Linked DNA regions of Homo sapiens: region 2 is linked to region 1. Evidence: fine-mapped expression QTL. A gene starts in region 1. The other region holds a variant in brackets. All regions are shown on one strand. Distances are from middle to middle. Region 1 holds the start of SLC40A1 (solute carrier family 40 member 1). Region 2 has its middle 58 kb from the start of SLC40A1.

Region 1 (5,385 bases):
GTCTCTATGGATTTGCCTTAGGAGTATATTTCTTTTGGAATCTTCTGAATTCTGTATTTAATTTTTCCAACTAGAAACTGTAGACTACTGTGTATATGTGTGTGTGTGTGTGTGTGTGTGTGTGTGTGTGTATGAGAGAGAGGAAGCAAGAGAGCACCCCCAATGAGAGCCAGCATTCATAAGAAACTTCGCAAGGTCAAATCTATTTGAAATGTTCAAACAAAATGAAGACCTGGGAGGATATTTATCTTTCAATAGGATGTCTGTAATTTAAAGTAGATGTTGAACTTAAACTTCTCAAGAGCCATTCATTCATATTATAGAAATATAAAACCGTTCTTGAAATTTGCCTGTAACACTGAGAAAGATTTTTGAATGGAAACGTGGCTTTATAGCTCCTAAGTTAATGTAAAAAGGTTCACATCCAACAGAAGCACAGTCCTGGATTGGAGCCCTTCCTGTAATAGTTGGTGATAACCCTATTACTTTTTTTCTTCAGAGCAGTGGAATAGTGACCATTCTTTATTCTGCCTTTGTCCTGGTGAGCACATCTGATATGGCAGAGGAAACTGAGGATGCCTGGCCGGTAAGTGAAAAGACAACTTAAAAATGAAATGATAAAACCGTTTTTATTTCCCAACTATAAACACTTTAAATGAATTTTAAATAGCCATATACATTTTATTCTGGCTGGGATTTTTAAAAAGGTGGTTAACCTAGTTACAAACTTTAAAACATGTTGAAAATGAATTGGCACATGGTCTTTAGGGTATCTACTATTTTTTGTAAACTGACTTAAAACTTGCATGACTTTCTTAGTTAGATTAAATTGATGGGAATGTTGTATGTTCTGTGTTCTCAAAAACATATATATGACTTTTGGAAGAAATCTTAATTTTCAACTGGTCAAATGTTTTCTCAGAAGGAGGAAGAGCCCGAAGGGTCTTGTGATTAAAGCGGTGCTTTGTAACCTAGCATGTCAAAGCCAAAAGAATTCTGTCATTTTGCACTTTCTGAATAGTTTGAGGATTTTTATTCTATTTTCATTTTCAATTTCTTTCCATTTCATAAGCCCCAACTAACATATCTCAACTATTCTCATTAATTAGGATTTAAGATTCCCCTTCCACAGCTCACTCACTGGTTTTAATGTCATGAACCTTGCTTGTTTTCTTTCCAAAGTATCTTTCCTACTTGCTTCACTGCAGTATCCCATTTGTTCTTTATAACATTCTCTCGGTTTTGGCTTCTGGGGACTCCTTGGTGACAATGGAGAACAGAGACTCCATATCACATTTTGAGGTATATGCTGACTTAGCCACTCTTTCCACAAATACTTCTTAAACAGTGTCTACGGGAAGTAATTTTTTTTTTAACCAACCGAACTTTTAAAAAGCCACCTGGAAGTTGGGGACAGCATGACACCCCTTCTTATAATATGTAATAATTAATGTAAAGCACTTGGAGGTCCTTGTTGCTGAGACACACTCTGACAAATGTGCAAACTATCACTATCCTTTGTGCCTTGTTGAGGACCTGTCAAAAAATTCATCTCTAATAAGGGATCGCCATAAAGTGGAGGGGTTTATTTACCAGTTCACTCCTTCACTTTAGTTCACTCATCTGAGTATACTTTGGTTTATTCTCAAGGATGCATGTATAAATGACCCTATTCTCCACGGTTAGCAAACCAAAACCTCTCTAAATTGGGAGAAAGAACTTGAATGTCGTGTGAAAGAAAGGAAAAAAGAGGGCTTGAAAAGGCAAAAAGCAGTGAAAAGCAGTAGTTAAACTGTAACCCCTATCTCTACTCACCAGACCACATCCCAACCGAATCCAGCTGCACCCACCCCGTAGACCTTTGGGGCTCCTGATTGAGAGTGCAGATACAGGGCACATACTCATGCGTGGCTCCCTTCACTACTGGGTGTCAGTCTGGCCTGTGCTCAAGGTGTGGCATCTGGTTGGAGTTTCAATATGTAGGATCCACTACCAGGGTTTTCGTGAGATTAAGAAGGGTAAGGTAACCTACTGGCAAAAGGGGCTGGTATGCCCCAGGGGTTGGTTTGGCACAGCAGGATTAAAACGAAGTCAACCAAGGCTAGAGTCTGGTGTTCTTTAGTCATTCACCTCACCCTCCAGGAGGCCACCGAATGGCTTTATCTGGACAGGGACAGATCCAGGGACACAACTGGGATAACCGGTATTCCTGGTAAGCCTGTCACTGGGGCATTTGGAGGTTAGGTGGGGAAGGGACGCGCGCGTGGGGGCGGGGTGAGAGGGTACAGAGGGAGAAGGAATGATGGTGAAGGGTTTGCTGGGGCTGCAGCATCCTCATTCTGTCTCCAGGACGGATTTGGAGGCCCCAGTTTGGGGATACGGGTAGGTCTGTAACTCGCTGCGGGACTTCACCTTTGCAAGCCTCCGTTTGCTCCTCTCAAGAGGGATGGACTCTGATCTTTGCGCCCCCTTCCTGCCCTTTGATTCTGGTTCTTTGAGGGAAGCCCTGCTATGCAGTCCGGGGAAGGAAAGGCATTCTCTGCTGCAGGCGGGCCGGAATGGGACGGCCAGGAAAGCGGCCTCTGTGGCATGAATTATATTTATTTAGATACCTGTATTAAAAATTATTTTCGTTAAAAAAGGAATCCCCACCCACCAAGCTCGCGCTGGAGCTTTGCACTGCGACCGTCCGGCGGCCGCCCTTTCCCTGAACTGCGGGGTAGCCGGTGCGCAGCGCTTTCTTCCAGCACCTGACGCTTAGTTTCGCGCAGAATCTCCCTACGCCGCCCCGCCGGCTCCACGCGCCTTCCTCCTTTTCCCAGCCCCACGGCCGCCCCCCGAGGTTGCCCTCGCGGCTTCCCGGAGAGCAGGAAAACCCGGGGAGTGGAACGCGTCGAGGCGAAGGTCCCCGCAAGCCGCGCAGGGTGTCTGCGGCCGGTTGGACGCTTGCGCCCGGGGTGGGCGACTCCTCCGGGCAAGGGCGCGGGGACGGCCCGGCGCGCAAGGTTGACGGGAGCTCGTCTCGCGCCGCGGGGACGCCCGGGCGGCCCTGAAGGGGACGGGGCGGCCCCAGTCGGAGGTCGCAGGGAGCTCCGCCCCCGACTCGGTATAAGAGCTGGGCCCGGCCCACGGCGGCGGCGGCGGCGGCGGAGAGAGCTGGCTCAGGGCGTCCGCTAGGCTCGGACGACCTGCTGAGCCTCCCAAACCGCTTCCATAAGGCTTTGCCTTTCCAACTTCAGCTACAGTGTTAGCTAAGTTTGGAAAGAAGGAAAAAAGAAAATCCCTGGGCCCCTTTTCTTTTGTTCTTTGCCAAAGTCGTCGTTGTAGTCTTTTTGCCCAAGGCTGTTGTGTTTTTAGAGGTGCTATCTCCAGTTCCTTGCACTCCTGTTAACAAGCACCTCAGCGAGAGCAGCAGCAGCGATAGCAGCCGCAGAAGAGCCAGCGGGGTCGCCTAGTGTCATGACCAGGGCGGGAGATCACAACCGCCAGAGAGGATGCTGTGGTGAGTGTCGTTGACCGAAAGCATATGGTGGAAACCCAGGTGGGGCTTTGGAGACAAGCAACTCTACACGAGTTCTGGAGGAATGTGGCTCTGCTGTGAACCATAGCTTTGTAAAAAGATCCTTTGACTCATATTTGGTGGACGTTAAGGAAGAAAGGAAATTCAGGGTGTGGGAAAAGGGGTTTGCACACAGGCACGGATGGAGTAGATTGGGCAGTTTGGATTGCCTTGTGTAAAAAAGAAACAAAACAAACAAACCAACCAACCCAAAAAAGAATGCTGAAACAAGAGTTTCTTCACTGTATGTGAAATGTGAAGTTGGGCAGTTATTGACTAGGTCAATAACTGAATTTAGTGAATGGTATTAAGTGAACGAAATACATCGGTTCATAGGTAACTTGATAAAATGTACGTGGTTTGTCCTGCAAAGTAGTTTTTAATAATCATGTTCTAATGAGATCAAATGGATAAGCATTCTGCCCTCAGCTCATTAAGTGACTACCATCGCTTTTTGTCACCCCGCCTGTGTCTTTGCAGGATCCTTGGCCGACTACCTGACCTCTGCAAAATTCCTTCTCTACCTTGGTCATTCTCTCTCTACTTGGGTAAGTGAGAATGCATAGTCTTACAACACAGTTGCGCAATTTTTTATTTCCTTTCGTTCTAGCCAGTTGTATTAAGCCAACTTCCAGTTTTGTCAAGCAGTTAAAGAAATAAATCATCCAAGTACACATGCTTTAATGAAAACGTTATTTACATCGAAGATCTTTCCCCATGAGTGTTAGTTAATGCAACTTAATTATCAGATCATCGTAGTTTATGTAGATAGACAACTATCCAGACAAGATTATCAAGGAAAGGAATATTTGCCTTGTTTTTAAATTTTATGTTGCATTAGTAGCTTTGGTAAATAGACATATCTGCTACAAAAGATGGATGGATGTCTCATATACCTTCTCTTCTTCACATTTTAAAATATTTTGTTTTCTTTTTTTGTTAAAATTTAGTTCCAGCGTGCAGCACCATGAGAATACAATAGAATGGTAGAGTGACTGACTTAAGCTAATAATAACATTCTAAGATTAATTGAAACATAAATGACCCCCAGAACAAATATCTGAGTGACAAAAATTCTGGTCTTTAAAAATGTTATCTATAGTTAGATAAAGTTTGGGGCAGTGGAGGCTATCTTAAAATTAATCATCCAATGAATATCAGCAATGGATTTACAGTTTTCCCTCTGACTTTCTAGGTTGTCCTGGAAAAGACCTAGTGTTTCTGTAGATCTGGGCTCCTAAAACTCTCTCCGAAAAATAATAAACTAGAAGGGTGCTAGATATATGTTCAGTGATGATTAGAATCTTTAACATTAAACAATTATTGTTTAAAAGCAATAAATCTGGCTATATTCTGTCCATGGCTCATATGTATTTAAAAAGAATGGAAAGAATTTTGAGAGTAAATTTTTTGAATGTTATTTTCCTTTTAAATTGGAAACTTATATTGGATCATCCTTAAGACATGGATGGAAACCACTGGAAGAGGAAATCTATACCCAATACCTTTGAGAAATTGTTAAGCTACATTATTGGTTCTCTAAGAAATAGCAGTTTATAGATGACATTTTAGAAAAGCAAGCTCCTATCTTACCAGAGGCTTACACAGGGGTGACTCTGCAAATACATGTAAACAAAGTGGAATTGGTGTGAGTTTGTTTTAATTCCAACAGCTGATGATGCTAAGTAGAAACCTAGTGAAACAACCCTTAATAAATAAAAAGCAATAGTTTGTTCCCCCAGTTTAATTCAGTAAATATTAAGTATTAATAACATGTGATGGGAATAGTATCTGAAATTCTCAGCCTGTGGTCTGGCCTTGCTCTT
Region 2 (5,385 bases), 59 kb after region 1:
TACTGGAGAGAGTGATGAATGAAGCAGACAGGAGGTGATAGAAAGGAGCGGGGTTGCAATCTGAAAAGAAGCTTTTGAGAGATCAAAAAACAGGTCAAGTCACAGGATAGGGAGCGTTGGTTAATTGACAAGATGAAAGGCTTATGATTCTAGAGAAAAAGCAGGAAGTTGGCACGAGGTTGATATAATGAAGGTAGAGTTGTACCTTTTAATAAGGTCCAAGGTTCTTTCATTCAATGAGTGGCCACTGTGGGATGGAGTAGGAGGTCAGGATGATCAACTAGATAGAACTTGTGTGGTAGGGAATAGAAGAATGGTTCTCAACGCTGACTGCACATCAGAACCACCTGGAGAGTTTTAAAGCCTATCAAGGCCCAGGTCCCACAGGCCAATTCAATCAGAATCTGGAGGTGGGGCTAGGCATTGGCAGGTGTGAAAAATCACCGAGTGATTCTTGTATGCAGCCAGAATTGAGGACTCTGGATTTGAACAACTGTTTGCACCTGCAGAAGTTTTTATACTCTTGCTGCTCTATCAGGCCTTATTACCCTTTACCAATTAAATCAGACGATTTGGGGGTAAGATTTTGGCTCTCTGTCCCCATCCAAATCTCATCTCGAATTGTAATCTCCCTGTGTCAAGGGAGGAACCTGGTGGGAGGTGATTGGATCATGGGGGCGGTTTCCCTCATGCTGTTCTTGTGCAAGTTCTCATTAGATCTGAGGGTTTAAAGGTTGAGGCTTCCCCTACTTGCTTGGCGTTCTTTCTCCTGATGCCTAGAAGGTGTCTGCTTCCCTTTCATCTTCTGCCATGATTGTGAGTTTCCTGAGGCCTCCCCAGCCATGCAGATCTGTGAGTGAATTAAACCTCTTTTGTTTATAAATTACCCAATCTGAGGTAGTATCTTTATGGTAGTGTGAACATGGGCTAATATAGTAAGATCTAGGCAAAAGCCATTTAAAAAATTCCCCAGGTGTTTCCAACCTGCAACCAAGTTTAGGAACCACTGGGTTAGAGGGATTGTATCCTGTGATCTACTATGTACCATGAATAAAATGAAATTATATTGTATGATAGCCCTTGTATATTAAAATAATACTTTGTTTTGAAGTTTAATGCACAGAAAGGAATCCAGATGCTACTCTTTGTCTTAGTTTTGTTTTTTGTTTTTTTTTTTTGAGATGGAGTCTCACTCTGTCTCCCAGGATGGAGTGCAGGGGCACGATCTCGGCTCACTGCAACCTCGGCCTCCAGGGTTCAAGTGATTCTCCTGAGTAGGTGGGGTTACAGGCGCCCACCACCATGCTCGGTTAATTTTTGTATTTTTAGTAGAGACGGGGTTTCTCCATGTTGGCCAGGCTGGTCTCCAACTCCTGACCTCAAGTGATCCACCCACGTCGGCCTCCCAAAGTGCTAGGATTACAGGCGTGAGCCACTACACCTGGCCTGTTTGTCTTACTTCTGATGGTTTAGTGCACCCTTCTAATTTAAGAAAATGAGAATGACAGAATTTTGAAAAATGGAGGAGGCCTTAGAGAAGAAGTCACGACCTCTTTTTTTACATATGAGAAATAAGGGGCCCAGAAAGGATAATTTAATTGTCCACAATTTCTTGGGTGGTTAATAACAGAATAGGGTCCCCTGACAGATCATTTTCAATTTTCTTTCTACTCCTCAATGCTGGCTTCATTACAACTCTTAGTTTTGAAGTGATAAACTTTAAAAGGGATATGACTTCATTTATAAAATCTATGGAGTACATGGACAGGGTGAATGTGAACTTGTCCATAAAACTCTAGAACACTAGAAGTAAAAGTTGCCCTCAAAGCCATGAAAAAGTTTATTTTAAAACAAGTAAATTAAACTACTAAAGTATCCCTTAATACCAAACATGGCATTTAAATTAGTGACCATGAGAATCTTTCAAGCCAAAAGAATGGCCACTGGGTAGCCATTCTATGTACGTAGGAAGGCTAAAAGTTTTGGGGTCTTCAGACCTGGGAAAATATGTGAGTTTCATAAGGTCACATGCTAGACTATAAAAGGAAATTTTGCAATCAGTACTTAAGCTCTTAATCATGTGGCTCACATGTTTTCATACTCCCTGAGTTGGTTAGTCCAATTCCTGACCTAGCCAACCTAGAAGAAAACAGAACAAAAGCAGGTCTCTATTGGGAATAAAGTTAACTGCGTATGATTATATTCTGCTTGTTAAATATGCACACTTCCTTGTGTATTCATGGACTTTGGTCGCAGTAAATGATCTTTGCAAAAAATGTCCTGGACACATCCTACTTACACTGAATGACATTCTTTGAGAGGCAGGTTGCTAGTTGCCAACTACAGTGCTTTGTTTCCAGCTGTTTCCCAGCCCATATCTTTCCATTGGCTGTGTTGAAAAGACTAGA[G/A]CATGCTGATGAAGCCTAAAAGCAACTCCAAGGAGGGGAAGTGAATAGATTAGATCATAGAACTTGATTTAGAAAGGTTTCCGTGGGCTGAAATGGGCAGCAAAATCTAAGCAGATGCAATTCCGTGGAGAGAGAAGAGAGGTATAAGTACTTGAACACAGTACATCAGTAAAGGGGGGGAACACACTTGCCTTATGGTATTTGAAGGGCTGTTATTAAAAGAGAGTTTCTAAGTCCAAAGTCCATAGACCATTCATAGGCCTTCAGAACACTGCAATTCCGCAAAGATTGTACAAGTTTTTATTCATGTCTAAATTTTTTTTTCCTGGAGATAAGGTCTGTCATTTTTATTAAATGCTCAAAATAAGAAAAATCAGATTAAACCTAAAAGTTATTAACTAGGGAAAATAAAAGGCAGCTACAGATAGATTTAGTTTCAATGAGAGGAAGAAATTTCTGACATTTAAAGTTGTCCAAACATGGAATGAGCTACCATGGGAGGTTTCAAATTTCCAGGCCATTTGGCAAGAATATCATAGAAGGTATTTAAGCAACAGTGAGTGGTGAAATGTGTTTACATTTCTATAAAACAAACAACTGTGTACATGGAGAGAATGCCTCAGTAAAATTAATGTGAATGCTGGTAGAGTTAGGAATTCTCAGAGCACTGAGGCCCTGAACCAAAAGACCACAAGTGATGACAAGAATTGTGGCTAGTTGGGGGATTGGGGGTACATTTGCCTCCTTTGGGCTGATCCTGGTTATTGATAATTAGACAAAAAGACACCCTAGTGGTTTCATTTTGTCTTTGCACTGTTGGAGGACTTGCTCTACACCTGGGTCATTTATGGTTATCTAATAGATACAGCACCCACAAACAGTTACAATGGGGAAGTTGGTAGAAAAATCAAGGGTGAGAGTATAGTGGTTAAGACCATGGACTGGGGAGATAGGCTGGCTGAATTTCACTCCTGCCTCTTTTTACTAGCTGCGTGTGACCTCGAAGAGGCTGTATAGCCACTCTGTGCTTCATTTCCCCAGATGTGAAATGAGAATGACAGTAGTACCTACATTATAGATTGGAAAATAAATACAAAAAATCATGTAAAGAATTAAAAACCATGCTCAAGAATGGTTAGCTATATGACTGTTGTGGTTTCTAGTTATTGAATGGAGATATTTGAATTATATTACAAACTGTCATTTATTTGCTGTATGATGTAGGGAAAATGCCTTATCTCTCTGGCTTCATGCTTCCCATCTATAAAATGGTGAACACATTTACGCTGGATGGAGATAATATCCAATTTAGTACTGGCTTTAACAACTAAAAGAGTCAAAGTACCCCTAAAGGTCTTACTTAGAAAGCAGAGTTTAACAATGATTTTTATAAGTTTAGGCTTATAGCAGCACATTAATTCTTAGTTTGGGAGCAGTGCTTTAGCTTAGATTTTGAAATCATCAGCAAAGTGTACTATCTGCACTATCATCAAGTTTTGTCAGAGCCTCACCCATGTTTTAAATCTGCTGTCTCTAGAACTCTACCCAAAACTTTTTATTAGAACGTCTTGAGGTATATTTTGTATCTGAAGATTTCAAGGGCTTCACAGTAATTCCTGAGTTGGCCCCTATCTAGAGCTGCGATTCCCAGATCTAGAGAGTTCTGCCTCCCAAGCAGTGGGAGCCTTGGACACCTCCTATCTGATGACTGATCCTCCTCTGCTTGAATCTTTTGGAAAAGAGAGCACTTGCCAGTTGACTAGGGAGTTCATCACACTTTATAGTCTATTTAAAGTTTTCTTTTCTTTTCTTTTTCTTTTTTTTCTTTTTTTTTTTTTTTTTGAGACAATCTCGCTCTTGTCCCCCAGGCTGGAGTGCAATGGTGTGATCTCGGCTCACTGCAACCTCCGCCTCCTGGGTTCAAGCGTTCTCCTGCCTTGGCCTCCCGAGTAGCTGGGATTACAGGGGTCTGCTACCACACCCAGCTAATTTTTGTATTTTTAGTAGAGATGGGGTTTCACCATGTTGGCCAGGCTGGTCTTGAACTCCTGACCTCAGGTGATCTGCCCACCTCGGCCTCCCAAAGTGTTGGGATTAGGCCTGAGCCACTGCGCCCGGCCTATTTAAAGTTTTCTTTTCATCTTAAAATGCATTGTATATATGTACTTAATGTGTAAGAATGTATAAGTCATTAGTTAATAACTGATGCAGCTTCACATTAAGCGCTTTGCTTTTAAATTTAACTTCAAATGCTAAATTAGTAGCATGGGCAAACACACATCAATAAAGTCTATTGGTTTGGACTCTGCTATTTTGAAGTTCGTCATAATTGGCTAGACTGCTGTGTACATTTGCTAAATAAGTTGTCATCTTTATAACACAGATTAATAGCATGCCTAAACATTTAAGAGGCTTAGAAAGAACTGCTTTTAAGGACCTTGAAGTACTGTATAAACAACTACTGAAATGCTAATTATAATTTAGTCTTATCTATTTATCACATTTTTTTCTTGAGAGGAGCCAGAGACTGAAGAGGTTGACATGGTCAACCTTCAAATCTGGGTTCCTGGCATTCCTTGAAAAGAATGATTTTATCAGGTACTTATCTCCTGGCCAGGCTTTTGGGTTTTCGTTTTTTTGTTTTTCTCATCTGCCTGTCCTGCTTGAGCTGCCATTTTAATTTATTATTCATGCAAAGTATTTGAGAGCTAGTCCATGCTGATATGCAGATGTCAGATTTTCTTCAGGCCATTCAACTTCCTTGGTGTGTTTGGGAAATCTGCCTTCTATTTGTTGTGTTGGGTTAAAAGTAAAATAATCAGGAAGGAGACAGCCCTTCATGAGGCTTTCCTTCATTACTAGGAAACATCTCTGGGACAGCCCTGTCAAGCCACTGCAGCCTGATGCTCTTAAAGAACTCACTCACAGTCCTGAAGCTCCCCTGCTTCTTGCTCGGCCCGCATCGCGGACCCTCTGC

Evidence for each region. PIP is the estimated chance that this variant, and not a neighbour inherited with it, causes the effect.
Region 2: its variant is the best candidate, but not a certain one, in a credible set for the expression of SLC40A1 in lung (TOPMed, PIP 0.69).

Annotation. Positions count from the first base shown.
Region 1 is chr2:189,578,535-189,583,919 of GRCh38, reverse strand. SLC40A1 (solute carrier family 40 member 1) reads left to right here and starts at 3,134. Exons shown (of 8, transcript NM_014585.6): 1 at 3,134-3,502; 2 at 4,040-4,107. The coding sequence starts at 3,460. RefSeq lists silencers at 2,881-3,050, 3,121-3,180.
Region 2 is chr2:189,519,785-189,525,169 of GRCh38, reverse strand. No RefSeq gene overlaps it. Among named protein-coding and RNA genes, the nearest start is that of SLC40A1, 58 kb to the left of the region's middle. The variant G/A (reference allele first, on the strand shown) is at 2,409.